4 linked regions of the Homo sapiens genome follow. The protein of the gene in region 3 purifies or fractionates together with the protein of the main gene of each other region. This does not show direct contact. Each region holds a gene or a part of one and is shown on either strand. Other genes may lie near its edges.

The links. The genes of interacting proteins can lie anywhere in the genome.
Region 1: the proteins of DERA (region 3) and DCPH1 fractionate together in Homo sapiens (co-fractionation; one large-scale study listed by BioGRID). This does not show direct contact.
Region 2: the proteins of DERA (region 3) and ASPSCR1 fractionate together in Homo sapiens (co-fractionation; one large-scale study listed by BioGRID). This does not show direct contact.
Region 4: the proteins of DERA (region 3) and ATIC fractionate together in Homo sapiens (co-fractionation; one large-scale study listed by BioGRID). This does not show direct contact.

Annotation. Positions count from the first base shown.
Region 1 is NC_000006.12:151,465,966-151,469,465, forward strand, and holds part of DCPH1 (damage-control phosphatase ARMT1), read left to right. Parts: intron 1-2,377; coding exon 2,378-3,145; 3' UTR 3,146-3,500. UniProt on the Homo sapiens protein: Metal-dependent phosphatase that shows phosphatase activity against several substrates, including fructose-1-phosphate and fructose-6-phosphate.
Region 2 is NC_000017.11:81,984,129-81,987,628, forward strand, and holds part of ASPSCR1 (tether containing UBX domain for GLUT4), read left to right. Parts: intron 1-1,378; coding exon 1,379-1,479; intron 1,480-3,500. UniProt on the Homo sapiens protein: Tethering protein that sequesters GLUT4-containing vesicles in the cytoplasm in the absence of insulin. Modulates the amount of GLUT4 that is available at the cell surface. Enhances VCP methylation catalyzed by VCPKMT.
Region 3 is NC_000012.12:16,035,607-16,037,881, reverse strand, and holds the end of DERA (deoxyribose-phosphate aldolase), read right to left. Parts: intron 1,651-2,275; coding exon 1,501-1,650; intron 1,193-1,500; coding exon 1,136-1,192; 3' UTR 501-1,135; downstream 1-500. UniProt on the Homo sapiens protein: Catalyzes a reversible aldol reaction between acetaldehyde and D-glyceraldehyde 3-phosphate to generate 2-deoxy-D-ribose 5-phosphate. Participates in stress granule (SG) assembly.
Region 4 is NC_000002.12:215,318,559-215,322,058, reverse strand, and holds part of ATIC (bifunctional purine biosynthesis protein ATIC), read right to left. Parts: intron 2,395-3,500; coding exon 2,328-2,394; intron 1-2,327. UniProt on the Homo sapiens protein: Bifunctional enzyme that catalyzes the last two steps of purine biosynthesis.

The DNA.
Region 1 (3,500 bases), on a different chromosome or scaffold from region 3:
TGTAGTGCAGTGGCACGATCTCAGCTCACTGCAACCTCCGTCTCCCGGGTTTAAGCAATTCTCCTGCCTCAGCCTCCTGAGTAGCTGGAATTACAGGCGTATGCCACCACACCTGGCTAATTTTTGTATTTTTAGTAGAGACTGGGTTTCGCCATGTTGGCCAGGCTGGTCTTGAACTCCTGACCTCAGGTGATCTGCCCACCTTGGCCTCCCAAAGTGCTGGGATTATAGGCATGAGCCACCTTGCCTGGCCCAGGACATTGTTAACTAATAAACCTTGTTTTTTGTTTTTTCCTGTTAACTCTGCCTTATGCTTAGCCTTGGAATTAAAAAAAAAAAGACTGGCATGCTAGTTCTTGACTCCTAGCTAGCCCATTCTTTCAGGGAATCATCTTCTTTGAATGTGTTCTTTGTCCCATAGTATAATAAACTATGAAGAAGAATGAGCATGCATCTATTTTCTGTCATCTGATTTAGCTAACAACTTCTTCACACTGTCACTGTGCTCCCAAGTGAAGGGGGCCAGAGTTGCCTCCATTTGGTGTCCGCAGTGAGCAACAGGTTAACGTTTCAAGGGAAGCTTGAAAACATTCTCGTTTTCAGAGAATGTTGATCTCTTTCAAAAGTCATAGCACTCTCCCACTGTCGACACACACATTTCTGGGGCTACTGTGTCAAATGCCATTCTAGGTGCTGGGCACGTAGTGGTAAAACAAGAACAGGCTGATCCTCCCTATCAAAACTTGTAATCTTGAGGGAATATAGACAATGAAGTAATTGCACAAAGAGCTATGCCATTACAAACTGGAAGACGGTGTGAAGGGAAAGTGCAGGAGGCTAGCACAGAACCTGCTCTCAGTCGCTGAAGGCCATCGTGGACACCATTGTATGAATTTCTTCAGGAAACTCTAGAAAAAGGTGACCTTGGACACTTTAGTTATTATTTAAGCCTTTTTTTTAAAAAAAATTTATTCATTTATCTCTTTTTAAAATAATACTGTTCGGCCGGGCATGGTGGCTCACACCTGTAATCCCAGCACTCTGGGAGGCCGAGGTGGGCAGATCACCTGAGGCCAGGAGTTTGAGACCAGCCTGGCTAACATGGTAAAACCCCATCTCTACTAAAAATACAAAAAATTAGCCAGGCGTGGTGGTGGGCGGCTGTAATCCCAGCTACTTGGGAGGCTGAGGCAGGAGAAAAGCTTGAACCCGTGAGGCAGAGGTGCAGTGAGCCAAGATCGCACCACCGCACTCCAGCCTCGGTGACAGAGGAGACTCTATCTCAAAAAAAAAAAAAACAAAACCCTATTGGTTGGAACATGCATTCTCCTTATTTTAAATCACAAATGAGGGCCTGACAAGGTGGCTCATGCTTATAATCTCAGCATTTTGGGAGGCCACGGCAGGAGGATTGCTGGAGGCCAGGAGATGGAAATTAGCCTGGTCAACATAGTGAGACCCCATCTTTATTAAAAAAAAAATCACAAATGAGAGTAGAGTCTGTTTTGGCTAGTGTTTATTGAGTACTTCTATATGCCAGGTATTTGGTACATTATTTACATGCATTATATCAATTCTCACAATAATTCTGTGAGGTAAGTACTAGTATCTCGTTTTTCAGTTGCAGGACTTGAGCCTTAGAGAGCTTAAGTAATTTGTTGATGATCATAAACTGAAGATGCTGAGTTTGAACCCAGGTCGAGCTGGAAGTCCTAAACGTGTAATTTTATGGCTTAAAAAAAAATAGGCCTACATACTGTTTTTCTACAAAATGTAATTGAGTATTAATTCAATTTAAAGCTGAATAAGATAATTGATTACAATGGGTCTTTAGTTAACATGACCTTGTTTAAAAAGTAGCGTCTTTAGATATCACTTTGTTCAGTTTTTTAAATTTTACAAATGAGAGAACCAAATCCCAGAGAGGTGTCACGTCCTAAGGTTATGCAATTAGTGAAAGAAACTGGACAGTTCTGCAGGGCCAAGGAGGAAAAAATAAACTTTTATTTCTTCTCTTGACTCTGGATTATATGGGCAACTTTGAGCCTCTCTTCACACATCCGATGATGTTCTAATATCTGCAAGCTGCAAAAACTTTTATTCTGAATAAACAATGTGAGTGCTGAAATAATTGAAACCAGTTTTTTTAAGTCCATTACATACTGATGAATTAAAAATTTCAGTTTTATCTTGTTAATACAGCATCATGTGAAATAATTTTTGTGCATTGTTAGAGAAAGTATAGATTTGATGGTCATGTAAAGAGTTTTGTAGATATTTAGTAGTTTTTTAGCAATGTCCCCCCATCCCGCTACATAATGGAGTTTTGTTGGCTATTCAGAAGAAGGGTGAATATTTTGTACTTTTTCTTTTTCAGATTTCACTGTGGGGAAATAAGTGTGATCTGTCTCTCTCAGGTGGAGAAAGTAGTTCTCAGAATACCAATGTACTAAATTCATTGGAAGACCTAAAACCTTTCATTTTATTGAATGATATGGAACATCTTTGGTCATTGCTTAGCAATTGCAAGAAAACAAGAGAAAAAGCTTCTGCTACTAGAGTGTATATTGTTCTCGATAATTCTGGATTTGAGCTTGTTACAGATTTAATATTAGCCGACTTCTTGTTGTCCTCTGAACTGGCTACTGAGGTTCATTTTTATGGAAAAACAATTCCATGGTTTGTTTCTGATACTACTATACATGATTTTAATTGGTTAATTGAACAGGTAAAACACAGTAATCATAAGTGGATGTCCAAGTGTGGGGCTGACTGGGAAGAGTATATTAAAATGGGTAAATGGGTTTACCACAATCATATATTTTGGACTCTGCCTCATGAGTACTGTGCAATGCCTCAGGTTGCACCTGACTTATATGCTGAACTACAGAAGGCACATTTAATTTTATTCAAGGGTGATTTGAATTACAGGAAGTTGACAGGTGACAGAAAATGGGAGTTTTCTGTTCCATTTCATCAGGCTCTGAATGGCTTCCATCCTGCACCACTCTGTACCATAAGAACATTAAAAGCTGAAATTCAGGTTGGTCTGCAGCCTGGGCAAGGGGAACAGCTCCTGGCCTCTGAGCCCAGCTGGTGGACCACTGGAAAATATGGAATATTTCAGTACGATGGTCCCCTTTGACTTGATTTAGGAGCTCTCAGTTGCATAGAAAGATCTGGTGAGCACCTTTTCATCCCCAGAAAAGGAGCACGTGAATTGAGTCGCCTGGCGGCTCTGTACGCGCTCAGGGAAGCTTAGCTTCTTGGTGCCCATCTACGTGCACTGGATGATTTTTCTTTTGAACATTTTGCCCCACTACACTGTTTTGGGGATAGCTGGGTTAAGCAAGTTAAAGATATTTACATTTATATTGGAATTTTAGCAACTTTTTTTCAGGTTAAATATATAATTTCAAGTGCTTTTAATGAACTTATTTTTAATTGGCTAGGGAGCAAAAAATAAGTGAGTTCTGCTTTTAGTTAGTTAACCTTGTTCT
Region 2 (3,500 bases), on a different chromosome or scaffold from region 3:
TGCAGGCGTGAGCCTCTGCGCCCCGCCCACGTCATTCTTCATGTGGAAGTTTTTCTTTCTTTCTGGGGTCAGTTGTGCCTTCCCTGGCTCAGGGTGTCAGCAGCATTCACCCACCAGCCTGACCACCTGCTCATAGAATTGCCCAGAATGTTAGAGCCGAAAGCGCTGCATGGATGCCGCAAGGGCAGCCTGTAATCCCAGCACTTTAGGAGGCCGAGGCGGGCAGATCACCTGAGGTCAGGAGTTTGGGACCAGCCGGCCAACATAATGAAACCCCGTCTCTACTAAAAATACAAAAATTAGCCGTGGGTGGTGGCGGATGCCTGTAGTCCCAGCTACTCAGCAGGCTGAGGCAGGAGAATGGCGTGAACCCGGGAGGCGGAGCTTGCAGTGAGCCGAGATTGTGCTGCCACTGCACTCCAGCCTGGGCGACAGAGTGAGACTTTGTCTCAAAAAAAAAAAAAAGAGCAGCAAACATTTACCATCTCATGTGGCTTCTGAGGGTCAGGAATCTGGGAGCAGCTTAGCTCAGTGTCTGTCCTGAGGCTGCAGTCAGGTTCGGTGGAGCTGCAATCTTTTGAAGCCCCCACTGGGACACGAGGACTGTCTCCAACACAGTTCACTCCTGTGGCGCCTGCATGTACCCACACACACCCACACACACCCCCACACACCCACATACCCGCACACCCGTACACACCCCCACACACCCCTGCACACACCCCACACACACCTGCACACCCCCGCACACACACCCCCCACACACACCCACACACACCCCTACAGCAACGTGCACACACCCCCACACCCGCACACACCCGCACACACCCCACACACCTGCACACACCCACACACCTGCGTGCACACCCCCCCACACACCTGCACACACCGCCCACACCAACATGCACACACCTCCCCCCCACACACACCCACGCACACACCTGTACACACACACCTACACATCTGCGCACATACCCGCACACACCTGCATGTAAACATGCACACACACGCACATCTGCACGCACATGCGCACACCTGCACACACCCACACACCAACATGCACACATCCACACACATACCTGCACACAACTGCACACCCCCGCACACACCCACACACACATATGCACACACGCACGCACACCTGCACATACCTGCACACTCACATGCACACACGCATGCTGGTGCAGCCCTGCCGGGGAGCCTCCAAGGCCCTCACTCCAGAGTGAATAGGAGGGTAGCCTTCTCCGTGGGGGTCAGCCTCTCCCTGGAGGCCAGGGCGGGGCAGTCACCCTCTCTGTGTCTGGAGAATCAGTCTGGGATTTAGAAGGAATAGTTGCTTTTCTTCCTAAGGAAGTTTCTCATGTCTTATACCCTCCAGGTTCGCATCGCTTTGCAGCTGGACGATGGCTCGAGGTTGCAGGACTCTTTCTGTTCAGGCCAGACCCTCTGGGAGCTTCTCAGCCATTTTCCACAGATCAGGTGAGCATCAGTGGGCTGGGGGCTCTTCCCTACCCTGTTTGCTGGGGAAGCTGCTGTGGTTACTGGGTCTGGTTCAGAGCTGGACACCCAAGCTCTGTGCTGGCCTGTGGTGCCTCTTGGCACTTTGCAGTCCTTTGTAGAGGAGGGGTGTGTGGGCTGCCGGTTCATGAGCAGCAGCCTCGGGGATGGCTGGTCACAGCTCATCGTTCTGAGTTTCCTGGGCCCAGCGGCCCAGCCTTGCCCACCTAGAAGAGCAGGAATGTGCTTCTGTCCTTGTGGGGGCCTGGTGAGCACTAAGGGGAGACGTTCGGTGCTGGGGGCAGGGCTCCCCATGCTTGATTCCCCTGGATGGGATCATAAGGTCTCTTTTTTTTAAGAGGCAGGGTCTCACTATGTTGGTCACCTAGGCTGCTCTTGAACCCATGGGCTCAAGAAATTCTCCCATCTCAGCCTCCCAAAGCGTTGAGATTACAGGTGTGAGCTCCTGTGCCCCACCAGAAAATCTTCCTAATAGTAATTGGATGGCTGGGCACAGTGGCTGGGCACAGTGGCTGGGCAAAGTGGCTTGCACTTTGGAAGGCCGAGGCTGGCGAATCGCTTGAGCTCATGAGTTCAAGACTAGCCTCGGCAACATAGTGAAACCCCTTCTCTACAAAAAATAGAAATGTTAGGCCAGGCATAGTGCATGGTGGTGCGTGCCTGTGGTCCCAGCTATGCCAGAGGCTGAGGTGGGAGGATCACTTGAGCCGTGGAGGCAGTTGCAGTGAGCCGAGATCGCACTGCTGCACTCCAGCCTGGGCAACAGAACGAGACTCTGTCTCAAAAAAATAAATAAATAAAAATAAGTAATTGATGTGTATCAGTTTCTGTCGGTTAATGGTTTAAACGTTGTTCCTGAATGTGTAAAAATTGGTGCTTTGTCAATTTGGGTCTTTTCATCGTTGGCTGGAAGTCTCTGTCCACAGTAAAAGGCTCAGCAGAATGGAAGGGACTTGGGGCTGGGGTTTGCTGTGAGCCAGGGGGTTCTCGCCCTCCCCGGGCCTCAGTTTCCTCACCTGTGCCCCGGCTGGTGTGTGGATGGGGTGAGTTCATGTCTTGAGGACCGAGCATAGGGCCTGTGGGAAGGTGACCGCGCGTCGGGCGCTGGGAAGGTGACTGTGCGTTGGGCGCGCTTGGTGGCCCCAGGGCTGGGCCTGCTCCCGTCTGACAGTAGTGCCGCGCTGCATGGCACGGGTGTTGCGTTCGTGGGTGAGAGCGCTGAGGTCTGCACGTCGGGTCTCAGTGGTCATGGGGATGGAAGCCACCCCAGTGGCTGTCGGGGTGAATGGAGGCCCCTGGAGATGGCAGCGGGTTAAGCACGAGCACGGAATTCTCCCTCCCAAAACGGAACTCAGACAACAGTGACGGAGCCTAAGAGCAAAGCCAAAGCCACGGGCAGGGGTGAGCGGGACCCGAGGCAGGAGATGACGGAGCCTAAGAGCAAAGCGAAGCCACGGGCAGGGGTGAGCGGGACCCGAGGCAGGAGGTGACAGAGCCTAAGAGCAAAGCGAAGCCACGGGCAGGGGTGAGCGGGACCCGAGGCAGGAGATGACGGAGCCTGAGAGCAAAGCGAAGCCACGGGCAGGGGTGAGCGGGACCCGAGCCAGGAGTGGCGCCGGGCAGGGAGGCAGGCAGCCCCAGGCGCTGTGTGGGCACTGGGTGAGAAGCAGGGATCCCGGCGCCCTGGCTCTGTGCTGCTTCCTGAGACGAGAGTGGCAGAGGGCAAGAAGAAAACCAAACAGCGCGGGGAACAGAAGTCAGGAAAGATGAACGTCTGGAAGGAAATGCCCCTGGGCCGGGCGGTGCCCCCGGGCGTGAACAGAATCCAGTGCTCCCACAGGCACAGGTGCTTGGTGAGGGCCGTCCTCCCTGGCTGTGCTGTCAGTCCTCAGATGGGGATGGAGGTAAGGAAATGGCCCAGAGTGGCCTGGGGCTGCCACTGGGGAGGGGCCGAGGGTGTCTGGAGAGGTGGGGCCGGCATT
Region 3 (2,275 bases):
GAGCAAAAAAGCCAGCCACCATGAGGCAGATTACCGTCCTCTCAGCTGATGGGGAGCTCTGTTTATGTACACCTGACTATGTGTACCGAGGGACAGGGAGACATGGGGGTGACTGCACGCACTTGGGAGCCAGCCTGTCTGCTTGGGCTTGATTTTTAACTCTGCTAATTTTGAGCAACCTTTGGCACGTTGCTTAAACTCTTTGTTCCTCATTCCCCTGTCTGTATAAAAGGATGTTTACATGAGTACTTACTGCTATAAGAAGCAAAACCCTTAACTGTATTTACCTTACTATTATGAGGATTAAATGAGAGTTAAATAAATTGATATATGTAAAGCTTATTACACAGCAAGTGCTGTTAATATCTACTGTTTTCCTCCATTCACTATACCAGAAAATTTGAAGTTTCAGAACACATACATAAGTTGCATTCATTAATAACATACTGGGGTGTTTTACAGATATATACCCAAGGAATCAACTAGAGAGATTCAGAGACTCACTGATCAAACCTCTTTTTATGTTTAATGGATTATTTTTTCATTATGTATTGTAACAATTTTTAAGTTTTTTAAAAAAATAAACTATAGGAACTTTATTATTTTAAAAATTTTAATGATATTCATCGTTGTATATGACAATGTCAGAAATTTCATTAGGACAACAATTAATAAAAGCGCCTATCCACGGCAAAAATGAAAGATGAGTTTTCACAGCAGGAAATTAGTGCTGAATCAGTGACTCCTGAAGTCGTTACAGCAGCGCTTGCGAGATGTTGCATTTTCCTCTGCTAGGGCACACTGCTTGGGCGGTTTAATATTGTTTTTTTCTCCCTTAGAATTTGATGTTATCAAAGCTACCATTAACATTTTACTTAAAGTTTTTAGGAGAAACTCTTCACAAAGTTAATAGTGCAGATCTTCTAGTAATTAAGATCATTTCAGATGTGCCTGAAATGAGTACCACATGTGGATGAGTTTGCTTTTTCCATTCCATTAAGTTCGGTAGAAATTTTAAAGAGAGGAATGCCAGTTACCTACTGCCCAATTTTTTAATTAAATAATTTTAGCAATTACGTAGAAAAATAATTTTTAAACATTGTCGTAAAGAACTTTTCTGGAACTGGTGACTGATTTAAGACATTGGAAGATCATGATAAGCTGCATATCTTCCAGTCACATGATGGTAAATCTGTGAGGAAAAGCAGAGTTTAATTAACAATCATTCTATAATTATACACATCAGTTAATAATTATACTATCAAATAATAATAAATAGTTTTAATGAACATTTCATTAGAAAGCCTCACTAGTATGTGCTTCAGCAGAATCTCCACCCTACTCACTTCTGATGGCGGTTTGCTTGGAAGAAAAGGTAGAGGATTGGGTAGGATGAGGTCAATCAGATGAGTTTTTATCTCCAGTTCTCAATTTGACTTTTCAATTCCTTTCTCAAAAAACACTTGTTAATTTATTCCAAAGACAGAGATGATTACTCACCTGCCTCTCAATGTCCGAGAGCAGAGTACTGGCACCTATTCGAAAGAGTTCTGGCTTCAGCCACTCATCTCCAAGCTCCTCCTTTACAAGAGAGAGCCAAGCAAGGGAATCCTTTGCACTGCGGATGCCTCCTGCTGGTTTAAACCCTATCTAAATGGGAAGGCAGAGAATAGAACAATCTTTATTGTTATTGGATTTCTTTTAAAAATAGTACTATGTTTATCAGAGTCTTGATTCTCTCTCTCCCTCTTTTGTTGAAAAAAAATCTTTTCACTTCATCCAGTGAAAGGGCTTAGATCAGTGACTCATGCTCATTCACACTACAAAACAACTTTTCCAAGATTTTTGGAAGAATGTCACTACTTCCAAACAGACACTAGTGAGGGTTAATAACCCTCATTAACATTTCACTTATTGGAAAGTCATAAACCTCCACCATCTAGACTATAGCTGTGAACCTGGAATAAACAAGGAAGGTGTCAATAAATAGGAAAACAGATCACAAAAGCAAAGCCCACTCATTCTACATTTCCACAAGTAAGCCTGTAGAGTCACTTCTCAGCCTTCATCTTGAGGTTCAAAAGACACGTGCATTTAAAATCAAAGGACAGAATCAGCAAGGCTGCAAGGTTACCCTAACCAAACTGGCAGCAAAAAAGCAAGGAAAGTTGACAGTTGTTTTAACCAATTTAACTGTGGGATTTTTTTTCTAAGTTGCAGGCACACACAGTTCTAAAAAGCTGGCAGACCAGTTACATAAGGGCAGTAGAAAAAC
Region 4 (3,500 bases), on a different chromosome or scaffold from region 3:
TGTGGTGGCGGGCACCTGTAACCCCAGCTACTCATGAGACTGAGGCAGAATCGCTTGAATCCGGGAGGTGGAGGTTGCAGTGAGCCAAGATGACGCCACTGTGCTCCAGCCTGGGCGAGAGTAAGACTCCGTCTCAAAAAAAAGAAAAAACTTGTGATGATCAAAGGAAACCATCAAGAAAGGCTAACACAATCCATAGAATGAGAGGAAATAAACTTACAACTCAATAATAAACAGATAAATACCTCAACTAAAAATGGACAAGAGGTCTCAACAGACATTTCTCCAAAGGAGGTAAACAACTGGCTAGGAAGCACATCCAACGGTGTTCCACATTATTTGGAAAGCAAATTATAACCACAATGAGATGCCACTTCAGAACCCCTAGAATGACTAGAATCAAAAAGACAGATAGTAACGTTGATGAGGATGTGGAGAAACTGGAGCCCCATCCAGCACACTGCTGCTGGAAATGTAAAATGGTGCAGCACTCTGAAATACAGGGTCGCAGTTCCTCAAAAGCTAAACATAGTTACCATATGACCAAGGAATTCCACTCCTAGGTATATACCCCAATGAAACGAATGTGTATGTCCACACAAAAACTTATACACAAATATTTATAGCTGCATTATTCATAATATTCAAAAAGTAGAAACAACCCAAATGTCCATCAACAAATGAACTGATAAACAACAGGGTATGACCACACAATGGATTATTTTTCAGCACTAAAAACGAAATGAACTATTGATACTATGCTATAACATGGATAAACCTTGAAAACATGCTAAGTGAAAGAAGCCAGGAACAAAAAAACCATATATTGTTAGATTCTATTTATATGAAAATGTCCACTACAGGCAAATCAGACACGTAACAATTGGTGGTTGCCGAGGCTGGAGGACGTTGGGGAAATGGAGAATAAATGCGTATGGGTATAGGGTTTAGGGTGGGGGTGATGAATATGTTTTAATATTGGATGTGGCAATTAATATGGTTTGGATGTGTGTCCTCTCCAAATCTCATTTTGCAATGTGATCCCCAATGTTGGAGGTGGGGCCTGGTGGGAGATGATTGGGTCACGGGGGAGATCCCTTATGAATGGCTTGGTGCCCTCCCCATAATGAGTCCTCACTCTGAGTTCATGTAGAGCTGGTTGTTTAACAGAGCCGGGCAGGCCGGGCGTGGTGGCTCACACCTAATCCCAGCACTTTGGGAGGCCGGGGTGGGTGCATCATTTGAGGTCAGGAGTTCCAAGAGCAGCCTGACCAACATGGTGAAACCCCATCTCTACTAAAAATAGTAAAAATGAGTTGGGCGTGGTGACAAACGCCTGTAATCTCAGCTACTCAGGAGGCTGAGGCAGGAGAATCACTTGAACACAGGAGGCAGAGGTTGCAGTGAGCCAAGGTCATGCCACTGAACTCCAACCTGAGCAACAGAGCGAGACCCTGTCTCAAAATAAAATTAAATTAAATTAAGAATAAAAGTTAAAAAGTAAAAGAGCTGGGCAACTCCTCCTCTCCCTCTCTCTTGCTTCTTCTCTCATGGGATATGCCAGCTCCCCCTCTGCTTTCCACTGTGATTATAAACTTCCTGAGGCCCTCACCAGAAGTTGATGCTGGCACCACACTTCTTGTACTGTCTATAGAATCACGAGCCAAAATAAACCTGTTTTCATAAATTACCCAGCTTCTAGTATTCCTTTATAGCAATGCAGAACAGACTAACACAGTAATGGTTGCACAACTTCTGTGAACCACTGATTTGTACATTTTAAATTGGTGAGTTGTATGGTATGTGGATTAGATCTCAATAAAGCTGTTACGTATATTTAAGAGAAACAGCCAGTATCTTTATGCAAATAACTCAGTTAGTTGTGCAAGTTGATAATTCCTAATATGAAAACCTGAAATCTGAAATGCTCCAAAATCTGAAACTTTTTGAGCGTCAACATGACACTTGGAGGAAATGCTCACTGAAGCATTTCGGATTTCTGAGGGACGCTCAACTGGCATGTTACCTGCAAATATTCCAAAATCTGAAGAAATCTGAAATCCAAGACACTTCTGGGTCCCAAGCATTTCAGATAAGGGATACTCAACCTATACATACTAAGATTTAGATTGTAACTTCCTAAAAAACTTCAGTATGTATTTTGGTATATAAATCTGGCCAAACCAAAATGCTTACACACATACAAAGTCACACAGAAGGTACGCAGTAAAGGTTTATAGTGAGTAAGAAAACACAGGGACACCAGGTTTGGCATAGTCTTTGTCGTTGGTTCGTAATGTGTTAAAAGTTTAATTTCAGGTTTTTACCTTATAAGATTGAAATCAAGTCTGGCCATGTCAGCATTATCTTCTGGAATATTACGAGCTAGGATTCCTAATTTAAAAAAGTTAAACAAAGTCATTAGCTTCAAAAAACAAGTCAGATTAAGGAATGTCTTTCAACATAGTGTCTTCAATCAAATTAAATCCCATTGATTAAAAAAAAAATTTATTTTTTTGAGATGGTCTCACTCTATCGCCCAGGCTGGATTGTAGTGGCGTAATCACAACTCACTATAGCCCTGACCTCCAGGGCTCAAGTGATCCTCCTACCTCAGCCTCCCAAGTAGCTGGGACTACAGGAATGCATCACCACACCCAGCTGGTCTTTTCAATTTTTTAAAGAGAAGGGGGGTGTTGCCATCTTGCCCAGGGTGATCTTAAACTCCTGGGCTCAAGCGGTTCTCCTGTCTCAGCTCTCCAAGTGCTGGGACTACAGGCAAGAGCCACCATGCCCAGCATAATATTCTTAATTAAAGAATATCAAACATGTAGTTGGGGAGTTATCAAACAAAAAAATTAGGATTAACAGATATATCTGGCTGGCCACAGTGGCTCATGTCTGTAATACCAGCACTTTGGGAGGCTAAGGTGGGGGATCGCTTGAGCCCAGGTGTTCGAGACCAGCCTGGGCAACAAGGTGAGACCCCGTCTCTATAAAAAATACAAAAATTAGCTGGGTGTGGTGGCACATGCCTATAGTCCCAGCTACTTGGGAGGCTGAGGTGGGAGAACTGCTTGAGCCTGGGAAGCAGACAGAGGCTGCAGCGAGCCATGATCGCACCACTGCACTCCAGCCTGGGCAAGAGTATAATCCTGTCTCAAAAAAAAAAAAGAGAGATATATTTAAAAATCTTTTTCTTCAGTTCTTGATCCCAGTTTCTTGAGCAATAAAATGTAAAAAAGGTAAAAGGAATTTTACAAAACTGTTGCTAGTTCCAGAACAGTCTATGCGTTTCTGTAAGTCAATGGCTTGTCTGATGATCTGTAGCCATTCAGCTTTATTCACCAAATTGTACCACAACTGACAAACTAGGAGGATACCAGTTTCTTGCCGTTTCGGTTTATATACAATTCATTCTTAGGTGAACGAACAAATGTAAAGCACTTTGAAAAAAAAAATTCCTTTGCAAGTCAGTTACGCTGTGATGCTTTCTTCTA